Linked DNA regions of Homo sapiens. The protein of the gene in region 2 purifies or fractionates together with the protein of the main gene of each other region. This does not show direct contact. Each region holds a gene or a part of one and is shown on either strand. Other genes may lie near its edges.

Evidence for each region. Proteins that work in one complex are often made in the same cells at the same time.
Region 1: the proteins of SRSF4 (region 2) and CCNL2 purify together in Homo sapiens (pull-down; one study listed by IntAct). This does not show direct contact.
Region 3: the proteins of SRSF4 (region 2) and BMS1 purify together in Homo sapiens (affinity purification with mass spectrometry; one large-scale study listed by BioGRID and IntAct). This does not show direct contact.
Region 4: the proteins of SRSF4 (region 2) and DDX27 purify together in Homo sapiens (affinity purification with mass spectrometry; one large-scale study listed by BioGRID and IntAct). This does not show direct contact.

The regions. Positions count from the first base shown.
Region 1 is NC_000001.11:1,396,536-1,400,621, forward strand, and holds the start of CCNL2 (cyclin-L2), read right to left. Parts: upstream 2,801-4,086; 5' UTR 2,772-2,800; coding exon 2,484-2,771; intron 2,137-2,483; coding exon 2,062-2,136; intron 1,884-2,061; coding exon of another isoform or gene 1,808-1,883; coding exon 1,698-1,807; intron 1-1,697. UniProt on the Homo sapiens protein: Involved in pre-mRNA splicing. May induce cell death, possibly by acting on the transcription and RNA processing of apoptosis-related factors.
Region 2 is NC_000001.11:29,154,401-29,157,900, forward strand, and holds part of SRSF4 (serine/arginine-rich splicing factor 4), read right to left. Parts: intron 511-3,500; coding exon 296-510; intron 1-295. UniProt on the Homo sapiens protein: Plays a role in alternative splice site selection during pre-mRNA splicing. Represses the splicing of MAPT/Tau exon 10.
Region 3 is NC_000010.11:42,813,795-42,817,294, reverse strand, and holds part of BMS1 (ribosome biogenesis protein BMS1 homolog), read right to left. Parts: intron 697-3,500; coding exon 623-696; intron 1-622. UniProt on the Homo sapiens protein: GTPase required for the synthesis of 40S ribosomal subunits and for processing of pre-ribosomal RNA (pre-rRNA) at sites A0, A1, and A2.
Region 4 is NC_000020.11:49,236,416-49,239,915, forward strand, and holds part of DDX27 (probable ATP-dependent RNA helicase DDX27), read left to right. Parts: coding exon 1-95; intron 96-2,533; coding exon 2,534-2,640; intron 2,641-2,820; coding exon 2,821-2,923; intron 2,924-3,500. UniProt on the Homo sapiens protein: Probable ATP-dependent RNA helicase. Component of the nucleolar ribosomal RNA (rRNA) processing machinery that regulates 3' end formation of ribosomal 47S rRNA.

The DNA of each region.
Region 1 (4,086 bases), about 28 Mb from region 2:
GACTATAGGCGTGAGCCACTGCGCTCGGCAAGGCTGTTTTTTTTTTTTTTTTTTTTTTTTTTGAGACAGAGTTTCACTTTTGTTGCCCAGGCTGGAGTGCAATGGCACAATCTCAGCTCACTGCACCTCTAACTCCCCGGTTCCAGCGATTCTCCTGCCTCACCCTCCCGAATAGCTGGGATTACAGGCACCCGCAACCACACCCGGCTAATTTTTTTTTTATTTTTTTTTGAGACGGAGTCTTGCTCTGTCGCCCAGGCTGGAGTGCAGTGGCCCGATCTCAGCTCACTGCAAGCTCCACCTCCCGGGTTCACGCCATTCTCCTGCCTCAGCCTCCCAAGTAGCTGGGACCACAGGCACCCGCCACCACGCCTGGCTAACTTTTTTGTATTTTTAGTAGACGGGGTTTCACCGTGTTAGCCAGGATGGTCTCGATCTCCTGACCTCGTGATCCACCCGCCTCGGCCTCCCAAAGTGCTGGGATTACAGGCGTGAGCCACTGCACCTGGCCAATTTTTGTGTTCTTAATAGGGACAGGGTTTCACCATATTGGTTAGGCTGGTCTCGAACTCCTGACCTTAGGTGATCCACCTGCCTAGGCCTCCCAACGTGCTGGGATTACAGGCCAGCCCGGCCAGAGGCTGTGTTTTCTAAAGGACTTCAATTAACTTCAGGTGCATAAACCCTGGGCTAAGGTCAGAGGCAGCGGTTCTCTGCTGGAGAAATTTTACTATTCCAGGGCCATGAAGCAACATCAACAGACTTTCGTTTTTTTTGGAAACAGGGCCTCACCCTGTTGTCCAGGCTGGAGTGCAGTGGTGACATCACAGCTCACTGCAGCCTCAATCTCCTGGCCTCAAGCAAACCTCCTTTTTCAGTCTCCCAAGTGCTGAGATGACAGGTGTGAGCTCCCACATCTGGTATGAGAGAATTTCTGGCTGTCACATCTAAGGTGGGGTACTCCTGTCATCCAGTGAGTCGAGACCAGGGATGTTGCTGAATCCTGCAGCACACAGGAGAATCCCCTACAACTAAAGATTACCCAGCCAGATGCGGTGGCTGAAATCTGTAATCCCAGTGCTTTGGGAGGCTAAGGCCAGCAAATCCTTGGAGCCCAGGAATTTGAGACCAGCCTGGGCAACACAGCATGACCCCATCTTTACCAAATAAAAAATAAAAATTAGCTGGCATGGTTGGCGTGCTCCTATAGTCCCAGCTACTCAGGAGGCTGAGGCAGGAGAAACTCTTGAGCCTAGGAGGTTGAGGCTGTAGTGAGCCATGATCATACCACCGCACTCTGCCCTGGACAACAGGAAACCTGTCTCAGGAGGAAAAAAAAGATTATCCAGCCTGAATGTCAATAGTGCTGAGATTAAGATTCCCTGCTCCAGAGCACTCAGAAACTTGTGGGACAGAAGCAGCAGCAGGGCCGTGCACTGACATGGGTAAAGCAGGAAGCCAGCCCCAGCGCGACCCGCCACAGCGCACTGTCCTCACTGGAGCCCCTGCCCTTACTAAACCGCATCTACTGATGCCTCTGAGCAGGCTCTGTTGGTGGAGCTTGAGACTGCGCTCATGAATATCCCACAGGTTTAGAGCCTCAGGCCTGTATTGTGTTATACAAGCCTTACTGTAACTTAATCAGAAATAAAGAAAATAGGCATCTATGATAGACTAGACAGCTCTGACTGACTCACTTTTTGTCTCTCAGCTGTCGAAGGCGGTGAAACACATTGATGACGTCCCGTATGCGTCTTGGGGCCTCTTCTATCTTGGAAGCCAGGTGGACACAGGCCATTGACACATGCTGAAGCGGAAGCATTGCAACACGCCCATGTTTGTCCCCAGCCACGGCGTCCTGACGGCCGCCAAAGGCTTGAGGGCTATTCAGACCAAAAGGGAGGTGCACCCAGGGGAAAAAAAAAGTCAAGAAACAGAACCCTCCGGCACAGAGCTCAGACTGGGGGGCAAGTACTCACTCCCTTAGTAACCGGGCAAAGTAACAAACCGTTTTACCCTCAACATACTTCGCTGGGAATGAAGTGCAGGAGGAAGCCTTACCTCCATGGAGTGCTTCACGAAGGACTTGGTATAAAAGAACCGCTGGAACAACACCTGCCCGGTAGCCATGGCCACCTAGAGTAGAAGAAAGTTTCCGTATTTTCAAACGCACCATTCAAAGCCTTCGCGGCCGAAAGTCATCGAGTAACGTGGGACTCCCCACGCAGAACCAAACACTGAAACGCTTCCCACGTCCACAAAGGCTCTTCGCGTCCCGCCGTCTCGGGATCCAGCGCACTGGCGGGCGGGGAGGCCCCGGGTCAGGGGCATGGGCTGGCTAGGGAATGGCGCCGAGGCTGGGGTCGGGGCAGGGGCTGGGGTCGGGGTCTAGGCGGGGGCGGTGCGGGCCCGACTCGCCGCCAACAAAGGCGGCTGCCGCCCCAGCGGTTACCTGGGCCGGAGGCTCGCGGCCGCGCCCTCACCTGCGGCAGGCGGAGCAGGATACCGGCCGCCTGGATGAGCTCGCAGCCCACCACGCGGAGGTCGGTCTCTGTGTCGGTGTCGAGGCCGCTCGACATGGACGGCGTGAAACGGAGCTTGTCGTCAGGCAGGAGGCAGTTCTCCAAGGTGATGAGCACCCCGGAGTACAGCCTGTCCCCGATCAGCACCCCCTGCGACCCTGAGGGTGCGCCCCCAGATCCCGGGGCGCCGGCCGCTGCCGCGGGAGCTGCCGACCCTGCAGCACCAGCCGCCGCCGCCGCCGCCGCCATTTTGTGCCGCCGACTCCCCTTCGGCTTCTTCCCTCAGGGCGGCTCCTCGCGAAGCTCCACGGCCGCCACCGCCCCGCCCCGTCGCGTGCCATTGGTTCGGCCCGCGACCAGCGCGACGCCGCCTAGCCGCAATTGGCTACATAACCTGCCCGTCAGCAACGCGCCTAACGCCGACGCCGGAACCTGGCGCGGGTGGGGCGGGCTCGTTACCCAGGGGACTCCGCGGTGCCGGCCGACCCGGAAGCATGTCTGTCCCTAGCGGAGGCGCGGGTGCCGTGCTGAGAGCGCCTGCCTGTGCGCCCCGAGCGGGGCTGGGACTCTTCCAAGATGCCCACGTTCGCACAGAGACCCCGGATCGCGGAAGCTCGCGTCTCGAAAGGCCTGTGGGTCAAGGGGGGCCATCTCGGTGGGATCTGGGGCGGGACGACCCCCACTGCTGAACCCTGGGCGCGGGGCAGGGTCAGAGGCTCCGCTCGGCCTCCCCCTGGATGAGACGCGCATGCCCGGTGTCCCCCGGCCGCCGTCGGCGTCGTGTCTTCAGTCCTTATCGACTCCAGACTTTGGGGATGCGTATTAACGCCAGACTCCTGCAAAGTCTTGCCTTCAACACTCAGCCCCTGGGGAGAGACGGGTGGAGGGATGACTGGAAACGTGGCCTCGACGTCCCTACAGAGCCCCTCCAGCGTGGGGAGGCCTAAGTACCTCAAGGTTCAGGCCCACGGAAGGAGTCGGGGGAGCGAGGCCCGGTGATCTACGTGTGAAGGAGCTTGGACAGGACCTCACAAACGCCAGGGAGACGGCGAGGGGGTTCGTGCGTTTGTAACGTCTTGACATCGCTGATCCTCCCGCAGGCGGTCTCACGCCCTGCCCGTCCTGGGTTCACGGTTTTTCATCACCTGCGGCTGTCCTGCGATCGACCACAGCTGTGCAGGAGGGGCAGGAGGTATCTGTTGCTGCAGTTACCGGAACCTTTGCCAGGACTAGTACAGGACCACGGGTGAGGATGGTGGGGAAGCCTGCGTGGGGCAGGGAACGGTGAGGCAGGAAGAGGGAAGGGCAGCAGAGGCCTGAGTGGTTGCAGGTTCACACACTGAGCTGCCAGTAACTGCCCAGCTCAGACGGGCTCAAATTCAGAAGCCACCATTGCTCCTCACCCCCACCCCCAGGTCAGCTGTCCACTAGCTCTGCCATGACTTGATACTGCAGCTCAAACAGTGCCAACCAAAACCCACTCTCCTCACCGCCTGTTATGGGTAACACGGTATGGTTACAGCTTTACTCATGTCCTCTTTCCCCAGGCTGGTAGCTCAGGGAT
Region 2 (3,500 bases):
TGGTCAGGCTGGTCTTGAACTCCTGACCTTGTGATGCGCCCACCTTGGCCTCCCAAAGTGCTGGGATTACAGGCGTGAGCAAGGCCTCTGATTTCTAAGAGAAGGGACTTCTATTTGTACTCATGACCTAAGAGTTCAAGAGTTTTACAAATAAATGTTCAGTTCAAAATTCTAAGTTATTGAACCAGATGGAATCATGTTATTAAGAACTCAACAGGAAAATGTAAATAAATTATCTATGTGCTCACTAATGAATTTATGATGAGCTCCAACACACAAAAGACATCAACAGTACCTTGAATGACTCCGGCTTCTGGAGTAGGACCGGCGTCGTCTGGAACCTGGCTTGTCTTCAACTAATCTGATTTTTCTCCCATTGACTTCAGTTCCATCCAACTTTTCCAAAGCTCTTTTCATATCAGAATAAGATACAAATTCAATCACCCCTTCATTTTTGCGTCCCTTGTGAGCATCTGCATAAGTCACTTCTCCTGCCTGACGCATATAATCCTGAAGAAAAAAAAAAGTGTGACTACATTAGGATATGTTTTGCTAAAATATCTAATGCAATCATCTGAGTGAATTTTTCCTTTAAGAAATGCCAGCATTCCGCAGAATAAAGTTTACTCTTAAATATTTTCATCTACCCATCAATCATGTACTGAGGTTCTTTAAAGCACCAGCCATATTAGGTGGGTGGGAGAGACAATAAATACACATTAAATTGTTCCTTTAAATAAAGTTTTGGGGCCAAGTGTGGTGGCTCATGCCTGTAATCCCAGCACTTTGACAAGCTGAGGCGGGAGGATTGCTTGATCCCAGGAATTCAAGACCAGCCTTGACAACACAGAAGACCCTATCTCTACAAAAATTGAAAAAATTAGTCAGGTGTAGTGGCACACGCCTGTGGTCCCAGCTACCCAGTAGGATGAGGTGGGAGGATCATCTGAGCCCAAGGAGGTTGAGGCTGCAGTGAGCCGTGATCATGCCACTGCACTCCAGCCTGGGGTACAGAGCAAGACCCTACCTCAAAACAAAAAAATAAAGTTTTGTGTGAATATAGAAGTTTTCAGTTAGCTATCATCTTCTAAATTTAAAAACAAACAAAAAACAGAGTCTTGCTTTGTCGCTCAGGCAGCTGGAGTGCAGTGATGTGACCTCGGCTCACTGCAACCTCTGCCTCCCAGGTTCAAGTGATTCTGTGCCTCAGCCTCCCCAACAGCTGGAACTGCAGGTCCGCGCCACCATACCCAGCTGATTTTTTGTGTTTTCATTAGAGATGGGGTTTTGCCATATTGCCTAGGCTGGTCTCAAACTCCTGAGCTCAGGCAATCCACCTGCCTCAGCCTCCCAAAGTGCTAGGATTATAGGCATGGGTCACTGTGCCCAGCCCATTTTCTAAATCTTATAGTGACAAATTATTTGTTTATAACCATCATGTCCCTTCAATACCACAGGCCTCTTTCCTCATTCTCTTTGAGGACTTCCTATGGTTCAATGAGAGAATACAACTAATGTCCTAGACAAATGCTAAAGCATTATATAAATAAGAGGAGATATGATTAGGAGGTTGCAGTGAGCCGAGATAGTGTCACTGCACTCCAGCCTGCTGACAGAGCGGGACTCCATCTCAAAAAACAAAACAAAACAGAACAAAAAGAAATTTATTTTTGGCCAGGTGCAGTGGCTCACACCTGTAATCCCAACACCTTGGGAGGCCAAGGCCAGGAGATCACCTGAGGTCAGGAGTTTGTGACCAGCCTGGCAACTTTGTGAAACCTTGTCTCTACTAAAAATACAAAAATCAACCAGACGTGGTGGCAGGCGCTTGTAACCCCAGCTACCTGGGAGGCTGAGGCATGAAAATCGCTTGAACCCAGGAGGTGGAAGTTGCAGTGAGCGAGATTGTGCCACTGCATTCTAGCCCAGGCGACAGAGCAAGACCTTCGTCTCAAAAAAAAAAAAAAATTTATTTTTTAAACTACTAATATCCCCTAATTTGTTTTATTTTTGCATTTCCTTGATAAATAGCTAACATACATTGTGCCAGAAACTGTTCTAGGCTTTTTATATATAAAATTCACTAAATTCTTTCAATAACCTTGAGTAGAAATTAGTATTAACCCCATTTTATAGTTGAGGAATATGAGGCATAAGATGTAAGTAACTTGCTAAGGGTCATGTAAGTGACCTTAGTGGCAGAACCAGGATTCTATTCAGGTTGGCCACCTTGAGAGCTAGGAAATCTGCTCAATTATCTATTACTCTCGTTTCCTGAGAGTGGAACTGCCTGAAGGTACAGACATGTAGAACCAACTAAGGGTGGTAACTGTTGGGGACCAGCCTCAACACCACCCGTAGGGTACCCAAAGTCTGGTGGCGACGAAGGAATGAGAAGAGAGAGGTTAAGAGTGCATAAAGAGTGGGGGCCAGGGGGCCAATTGCAAAATGGAGGCTGCAAAAGGCTCAGAGTTCTGGTCTCCACACTATTTACTGAGTACAATCACTTAGATCTAAGAAGCAGACATTCAGGACGAAACGGTGAAAGGCAGGCAGTGCTGAAAGGAAGGCAGTGCGTCATACACGTAATCTACAGCAGTGGCAGTTTAAATGAATCTCCTTTGTGCTTAGACAGCATATCTTTAACTTATCGGAGAGTAGCTGGTGGGAGCGAGCTTAACTAGGAGCCTGCATGTCTGGCCACATTCCAGTGCTTCAAAGGAGTGTCTTTCTCCTTGAACACAGTGTTTATGGATAAGAGAGCAAGTCTTGCTGAGAGCATGGGAACATAATGGTGATAAGGCTTTCCTCCTCCCACAAGAGGCCTCTTGTGGCTTTGCACAATTTATTGTCCCATATTTTTATGGCCAGTTTATACAGGCACCCCATAAGCCTTTCCCCCAACAGTAACTAAGCTCTGTTCTAACAAAAAAATTAAGAGGTTTTCTAAGAAGTTAATTTAATATTACATTTAGTGGCACTACATGACGAGTTAGCATTCTACTGATGAAGAGAGTAGCTTTCCAGTTTCTACCCATGATGTTCAATCCCTAACTCTCAGAATACTGGAGTCATTCCTTCAGCAAGCAGAATCTTGCTGGCAGACATTCAGTAAAGGTCTGCTACGGTGCTGACGATAAGCATGATGCACCTGAAAAAACAGCAGACTGGGAGTCAGGAGTCCTGGTCCCAGCTCTTCTGCATGTTACTTGAAGGTTGCTGGGATTAAATTTTAAAAAGAAAAACAAAAAAGTGCTTTAAATTAAACTATACAAATGTAAAGGATTCCTAACTATTCTTTCCTGAACCTAAATACACTTCACTCATTTGGCTAGAGATGACTTGTTTAAATATGGCCAAAAAAAGCGAGAAGGGAGACAGAAAACAAAACCTGTTTCATGCATCCTCCTAAGACCATTCAGATTATGATACTGCTCAGTAAGTTTTTCTTCCTATTGAGATTAAAAACACTGTTGTCAATAAGTGGGGCCGGGTGCAGT
Region 3 (3,500 bases), on a different chromosome or scaffold from region 2:
TTTGTGTATGTTTATGAAGGTCTTTTCTTTAAACATTAGCTTTTTTAAAGTTCTATTTAAACAAGAATCTTAGCAAAAATCTGTTATCATTATCAATAAAACAAAAGAAAACACAACACAACCTTTGTCTCTGAATAACATGGTACTGCTACAGGAAATGGTTACATCTGCATTACAATTAGCTGCTAATCCTTAAGCTGGCTGGGAACACAAACTAGAATAAAAATAACAGACGTGTCCCTCACCCAGATGCTCCCAGACCCTGTTCTAAAGAAATACTAGGGAGAACAGGGACTTCATTCTTTTAAATGACACTTAAATTTAAAAAAAGGAGAATGATGCCAATGGTTGAATGTAAGTCCAAGAAGCTAAGACTTCCGTGAGTGAAAAATCACAGTGGACTTGGCAAATGACTATGGCAAGAAACGGTAGTAACTGTCATCCAAAACTTAACAAGTAAACAAGAAAGCTTCTCTTTGGTCCCCACATCCCCACCCTTTAGGAAGGAATCTATCTATCCAGTCTGCAATCTTCACACATCACAAGTAAGATTTGCATTTCTCAATGTGGGCCTCTCTCAGAACACAATGACCAAGAACAGCCAGCTACGACAAAGTCATACCTGAGTATTGGGGCCTGATTTTCCCTTGTGCACGTCCCCTGTTTCCAAGTCTTCAAAGTCACCGTAGAGCTCCTCTGGGAAAAGAACACCCAAAGGCTGCTCTGTGAGCCAGGTATGCATGTGCTGCTGGCCCCACCTACCACAGGCCCACAGTGTGCTCTGCGTTCCAAGCCTCATTCTCACTGTTCCTGTCACTACACACACAGGCAAAACTTTGCACTAGGGAATGCTTTGTAAAACAGTTAGTATTTCATCATCTGTTTAGGTAAACTAAATGGACCCAATCCACATTTCCGCACTTCACATCAAAATCCCAATCTCAATTTTTCCAGTATACACAATGGACACTCTTTTGTTTTTGTTTTTTATTTTTGGAGACAGAGTCTCACTCTGTCACCCAAGCTGGAGTGCAGTGGCATGATCTCAGCTCACTGCAACCTCCGCCTCCCGGGTTCAAGCAATTCTACTGCCTCAGTCTCCCGAGTAGCTGGGATTATAGGCACCCGCCACCAAGCCTGGCTAATTTTTGTATTTTTAGTAAAGATGGGATTTCACCAATTGGCCAGGCTGGTCTCGAACTCCTGACCTCGTGATCTGCCCTCCTCAGCCTCCCAAAGTGCTGGGATTACAGCCATGAGCCACTGCACCTGGCCAATGGACACTCTTTATGAAAGACACAGAGGTCTATGTGTGTCCCCCAAACGAATAGTTCAAGGAATGAATAGAAAAGCTCCACGCTGATACCAGCACATGTGAAAAGGAGTCTCAATGTAAGTTCAACACAACACAATCGTGTAACACACCTAGGGGAAATTTTAGGTTATATAAAACATAGCATTTAGATTAAGAGTAGAGCCCCAAACCACACCAAACCCATGGGAAGAGCTTATTCACTCATTCATTCCTTCATTTGTTTTTGGAGCTCTGGGCTCAATTATAGTTCCCACTCTTAAAAGAAACAGACAAGTAAGGCTGGGTGCAGTGGCTCACGCCTGTAAACCCAGCACTTTGGGGGCCCGGGAGGCAGACGTTGCAGTGAGCCATAATTGCATCACTGAACTCCAGCCTGGGTGACAGAGTGAGACCCTGTCTCAAAAAAAGGAAAATAAAAGAAATAGGCAAGTTAAAACTCATTTGGGAGAGCAATGTTTAGAAGGCTATTAAAACATTTTCACATAAGGGCCAAAGAACCAGGTAGAAGTTATAATAGATAGGAAGCTCCTATTTGTAATAAAAGCAAAAAAGGATAAAATAGGAATAAACCTAACAAGAAATGCACCAGAACTTTATTTTTTTAAAAAAGAAGAAAAGCTTTAATATGCTACCAAAGGACAAAAGGAATAGCATCACCACCAACACTCATCGGTGCTCTCCACACCAGGCACTGTGTTAAGTACTTTCCTTGCCTTAACCACATTCTTCAACCCAAGGAAGTAGGTGTTGTAAATATTATCTACTGAATAATGATATGTCCTCATTTGAAAAGAAAGACTCAACATCAAAAATACGCCAATTCTCCCTTTAGCACAGTTACAACCTGAAACCACCATTAAGGATTTCTGGTCTAGAGAAGATAACACATTATACCCTCCTAAGAAATAATAGACAGGAGATGATCAAAGGAGAATTCTGAAAGGTGGAAAGAAAAAGGCTGCTGAGGGACTCTAGGACTAGGGAATGCATAGTGGCCAGGTGTCTCCCTGGACCTCATCCAATAGGAAGTTGACCAGGCCCAGAGTTTCCCAACTCCCAACGTAGCAATAGAAGGCAACCCAGGCAGACTCAGTCCCCCCAGATCAAAGGAAATCTTCCCCATAACAAGAAAACCAGCTCCACACACCAAGACAACCACCACTCCCCACCCACCTAGCTGCAGCAGGTGGCCCAGCCTGGGGCAGCTCCCCTGTTCCCTCAGGTGGGCAACAGCAGGGACTGGTGGGAGAATCCCAGTGATACATATAAGCCAAACAGACCAAAATAACACCATGAAGGCTCTGAAATTAAATTGCCATTGGAATCACAGCCCACAAAGTAGACCAGGACCTACAGACTAAACCCAAATAGGAGGACTGCCTGCAAAAATAAAAAAATTACATAGGCAGATGTTGGAACCATCTGACTCATCACTTATAACAGTCAGCATAAATATGCTTCAACAAGCAACTACAAATCCTATGGCAACAAACAAAGAACTGAAAACGTCAGCAAAGAAACTGAAGAAGAATCAAATGGAAATTACAGAAATATAAAATACAGTAACAGAAATTAAAAAAAAATCTATCTAGATGGGCTCTATTGAGTAAAAGTGGAGACGACAGAGGAGAGAATCAGAGAAGCTGAAACCTGTATCAACAGAATTCACCCAGTCTAAACAATAGAGAGAAAATAACCTGAAAACAAATGAACAGAGCTGCACGGACCTGTGGGACAATAACAAAAGACCCCGCATTTATGTTATCTGAGTCCCACAGGAGACCAGAGCTGCAAAAGCATGCAAATAACTAATTCCTGACGCTTCCCACATTTAGTGAAAGATATAAACTTACAGATTCAAGAAGCTGAGCAAACCTCAAAGTATAACAAAAGAAAGCAACACTGATTAAACTTTCAAAACTAAAAACAAAGACCAAAAATGGCAGAATGCCTGTAGGGACATGCCAACTCAAATGCCATGGAGGCCAGAAGGAAGTGGCACAACATTTTCAAGTGCTTAAAAAAAACCAACCAAAGAAACAAACAAAAAAACCAAACCAACAAACAAAAAAACTGTTGGTTGCAAATTCTATATCCCATGAAACTACCCTTCAGAAATGAAGAGAGAAATAAAGACATTATCAGAGGAAGAGAATATAGGAATTTGTCTCTGGTAAATTTAGAA
Region 4 (3,500 bases), on a different chromosome or scaffold from region 2:
CTCAGTCTCTCTGGTGGGAGAAGATGAGCGGAAGATGCTGAAGGAGATTGTAAAAGCTGCCAAGGCCCCTGTGAAGGCCAGGATACTTCCCCAAGGTGAGCAGGCACCCCTGTGGCAGTGCAGAATGGCTCGGTGGGCGGGGCAAGGACAGAGTGTAATGGCTGAGAGCAGGTACTTTGCAGTTCAGAGCCAGATTTGAATTCCAGCCCTGCTGCTTCCTTGCCGAGTGACCATGTGCAGGTTTCACCTCACCTCTCTGAGCTTGCCTCCTGTGTGTAGAAGGGAATTATGACAGAATTGTAAACACAGTGCCCCATTTAGGTGGAAATTGAGAAGAGAAGGTTGCTTGGGGCAAAATTCTCACTAAACTCCTCTTTCCCTTACTGTTGGTGGTGGGGAAGAGAGAGATCAGTACTCATTCTTTTTGGGTCCTTTCATTGATTTTGTTCCTCTGATCTGTGGGGGTCTTATAAAGCACATCCTCTTTAAAGTCTTTTTTTGTTTTGTTTTGTTCTTGAATTCCTAGGCTCAAGCAATCCACCCACCTTCTGCCTCCCAAAGTGCCGGGATTAACAGTAATGAGCCACCATGCCCAGCCTTAAAAATTTTTAAAGTTATAAAAATAATACATATTTAGCCTGAGCATGGTAGCTCTTGCCTATAACCCAGCACTTTGGGAGGCCAAGGCAGGAGGATTGCTAGAGGCCAGGAGTTCAAGACCAACCTGAGCAATATAGTGAGCTGCCTGTCTCTAAAAAAAAAAAATTAGCTGGGCATGGTGGTGTGTGCCTGTAGTCCCAGCTATTCAGAAGGCTGAGGCAGGAGATCTCTTAAATCCAGGAGGTTGAGGCTGCAGTGAGCTATGATTGTGCCACTGCACTGCAGCCTGGGCAAAAGTGCAAGACCCTGTCTCTAAAAAATGAAATGAAAAGTACGTATTTATTGTTGGAAATTAGTAAATAAAAAAAAATGTAATTCTGTGTCAAAGAGCTCACCACTGGTAGCATTTAGGTGTATGTCTTTTCAAACCATTTTTCCTTTCTTAAATGTCCCTTTTATTTTTTTCATTTTCATTGTCTTCATTTAATCAGCGACTAGTTATTGAGTCCTGCTGTGGGCCTAGTGCTATTGATTCTGTTCTAGGTGCTGGGGATACAGCAGGGAACAAAGCAGAGCTGTGGTTCTGGGAGAAAGAGACAATAAATAAGCTAACAGTAGATGTGATTGAGAACAGCAGGAGGAGACTGCCTCATTAAGCTGTTAAGGAAAGGCCTCTGCACAGCTGGCATTGGAGCTGAGTCCTGGGTGATCGGAATGAGGCAGCCATGAGAGGTCTGAGGGCAAAGTGCTGAGCTGAGAGAACAAGGGTGGAGGCTGTGAGGTAGGAACGAGCTTAGTGTGTGAGAACAAGAGAAAGGTCAGGAGGCTCAGGCGTGGTGAGCAGGGACACACAGAAGATCAGAGCGGTAGGCAGGGGCCACTCTGAGTCTGGGGGATATGAAGCAGAGAAGGCACACATTACAGACACCATTTCCTATGTCAGTAAATGCACAGCTAAATTATTTTCATCAGTTACACAGTATTAGTAGTCACCCTTATTTTATTTTATTTAATTTATTTTTGAGATGGAGTCTTGCTCTGTTGCCAGGCTGGAGTGCAGTGGTGCGATCTCGGCCCATTGCAACCTCTGCGTCCCGGGTTCAAGTGATCCTCCTGCCTCAGCCTCCCAAGTAGCTGGGACTACAGGTGCATGCCACCACGCCCAGCTAATTTTTATATTTTTAGTACAGGTGGGGTTTCACCATGTTGTCCAGGATGGTCTCGATCTCTTGACCTCGTGATCCACCCGCCTTGGCCTCCCAAAGTGCTGGGATTACAGGCTTGAGCCACTGCCTTATTTTGTTTAAGATAAGGTCTTGCTTTGTTGCCCAGGCTGGGGTACAGGGGTGCGATCATAGCTTACTGTTGCCTCGAACTCCTGGGTTCAAGCAGTTCTTCTCCTCAGCCTCCTGAGTAGGTGGGACTACAGGTGTGTGCCACCATGATGGCTAATTTTTTTTTTTTTTTTAGATGGAGTCTCGCTCTTTTGCCCAGGCTGGAGTGTAGTGGTGTCATCTTGGCTTACTGCAGCCTCCGCCTCGTGGGTTCAAGCAGTTCTCCTGCCTCAGCCTTCTGAGTAGTAGCTGGGATTACAGGCGTGTGCCCCCACACCCAGCTGATTTTTGTATTTTTAATAGAGACGGGGTTTCACAGCATTGGCCAAGCTGGTCTCAAACTCCTGACCTCAGGTGATCCACCTGCCTTGGCCTCCCAAAGCGTGGGATTACAGGCATGAGCCACTGTGCCTGGCTTTTTTTTTTTTTTTTTTTTTTTTTGTAGAGACAGAGTCTGGCCACGTTGCCCAGGCTGGCCTCAAATTCCTGGGCTCAAGCAATCCTCCCACCTCAATCTCCCAGAGTGCCGGGTTACAGGTGTGAGCCACCATGCCTGGCCTACCCTTATTTGTAAATCCTTTTTATTTTCTCCCATTGAGATGTCATCCTCAAATTCCGGGACAAGATTGAGAAAATGGAGAAAGATGTGTATGCAGTTCTGCAGCTAGAGGCGGAGGAAAAAGAGATGCAGCAGTCAGAAGCCCAGGTGAGGCTGCGAGGCGGGATCTTGTTCACAAGGCTGCTCAGTAAGCAAGCTGCTGCATCCCTGCTGGTGCTGCCCTTCTGAAATGTTTCTCCCATCAGAGCCCCAGGCATTTGCAGCCCGTGGCTTCCTGTGTTAGTAGATACGGGTTTCACGGCAGGCATCCTTTTGTTATCTCTACAGATCAATACAGCAAAGCGGCTCCTGGAGAAGGGGAAGGAGGCAGTGGTCCAAGAGCCCGAGAGGAGCTGGTTCCAGACCAAAGAAGAGAGGAAGAAGGAGAAAAGTAAGTCAGGGAGGTTCCGCAGAAATCTAAATACAGAATTACCCCACAGGACTCAGCAGTTCCATTTCCTAGTTCTATACTGTAAAGCAGCGGTCCCCAACCTTTCGGCACCAAGGACCAGTATCGTGGAAGACAATGTTTCCACATTTGGGGTGTGGGGGTTGCATTAGATTCTCATAAGGAGTGCACACCCTAGATCCCTCGCATGCGCACTTCACAATAGGGTTAGTGCTCTTATGAGAATCTAATGCTGCTGCTGATCTGACAGGAGGCCAAGCACAGGTGGCAATGCTTGGTTGCCCAATGCTCACGTCCTGCTGTGCAGCCTGGTTCCTAATACGCCATGGACTGGAACCGGTATGCAGCCTGGGGTTGGGGACCACTGTTGTAAAGGATGTAAACAGGGACTCAAACAGATACTTAGATGCCAGTGCTCTTTGAATTACTGTTCATAATAGCAAAAAGGTGGAAACAAACTATGTTCATCAACAAGTGAATGGATAAACAAAATTTGGGGTGTGTGTTTATATACACACAATGGAATATTATTCAGCCATGAAGTTCTGATACATGCCAT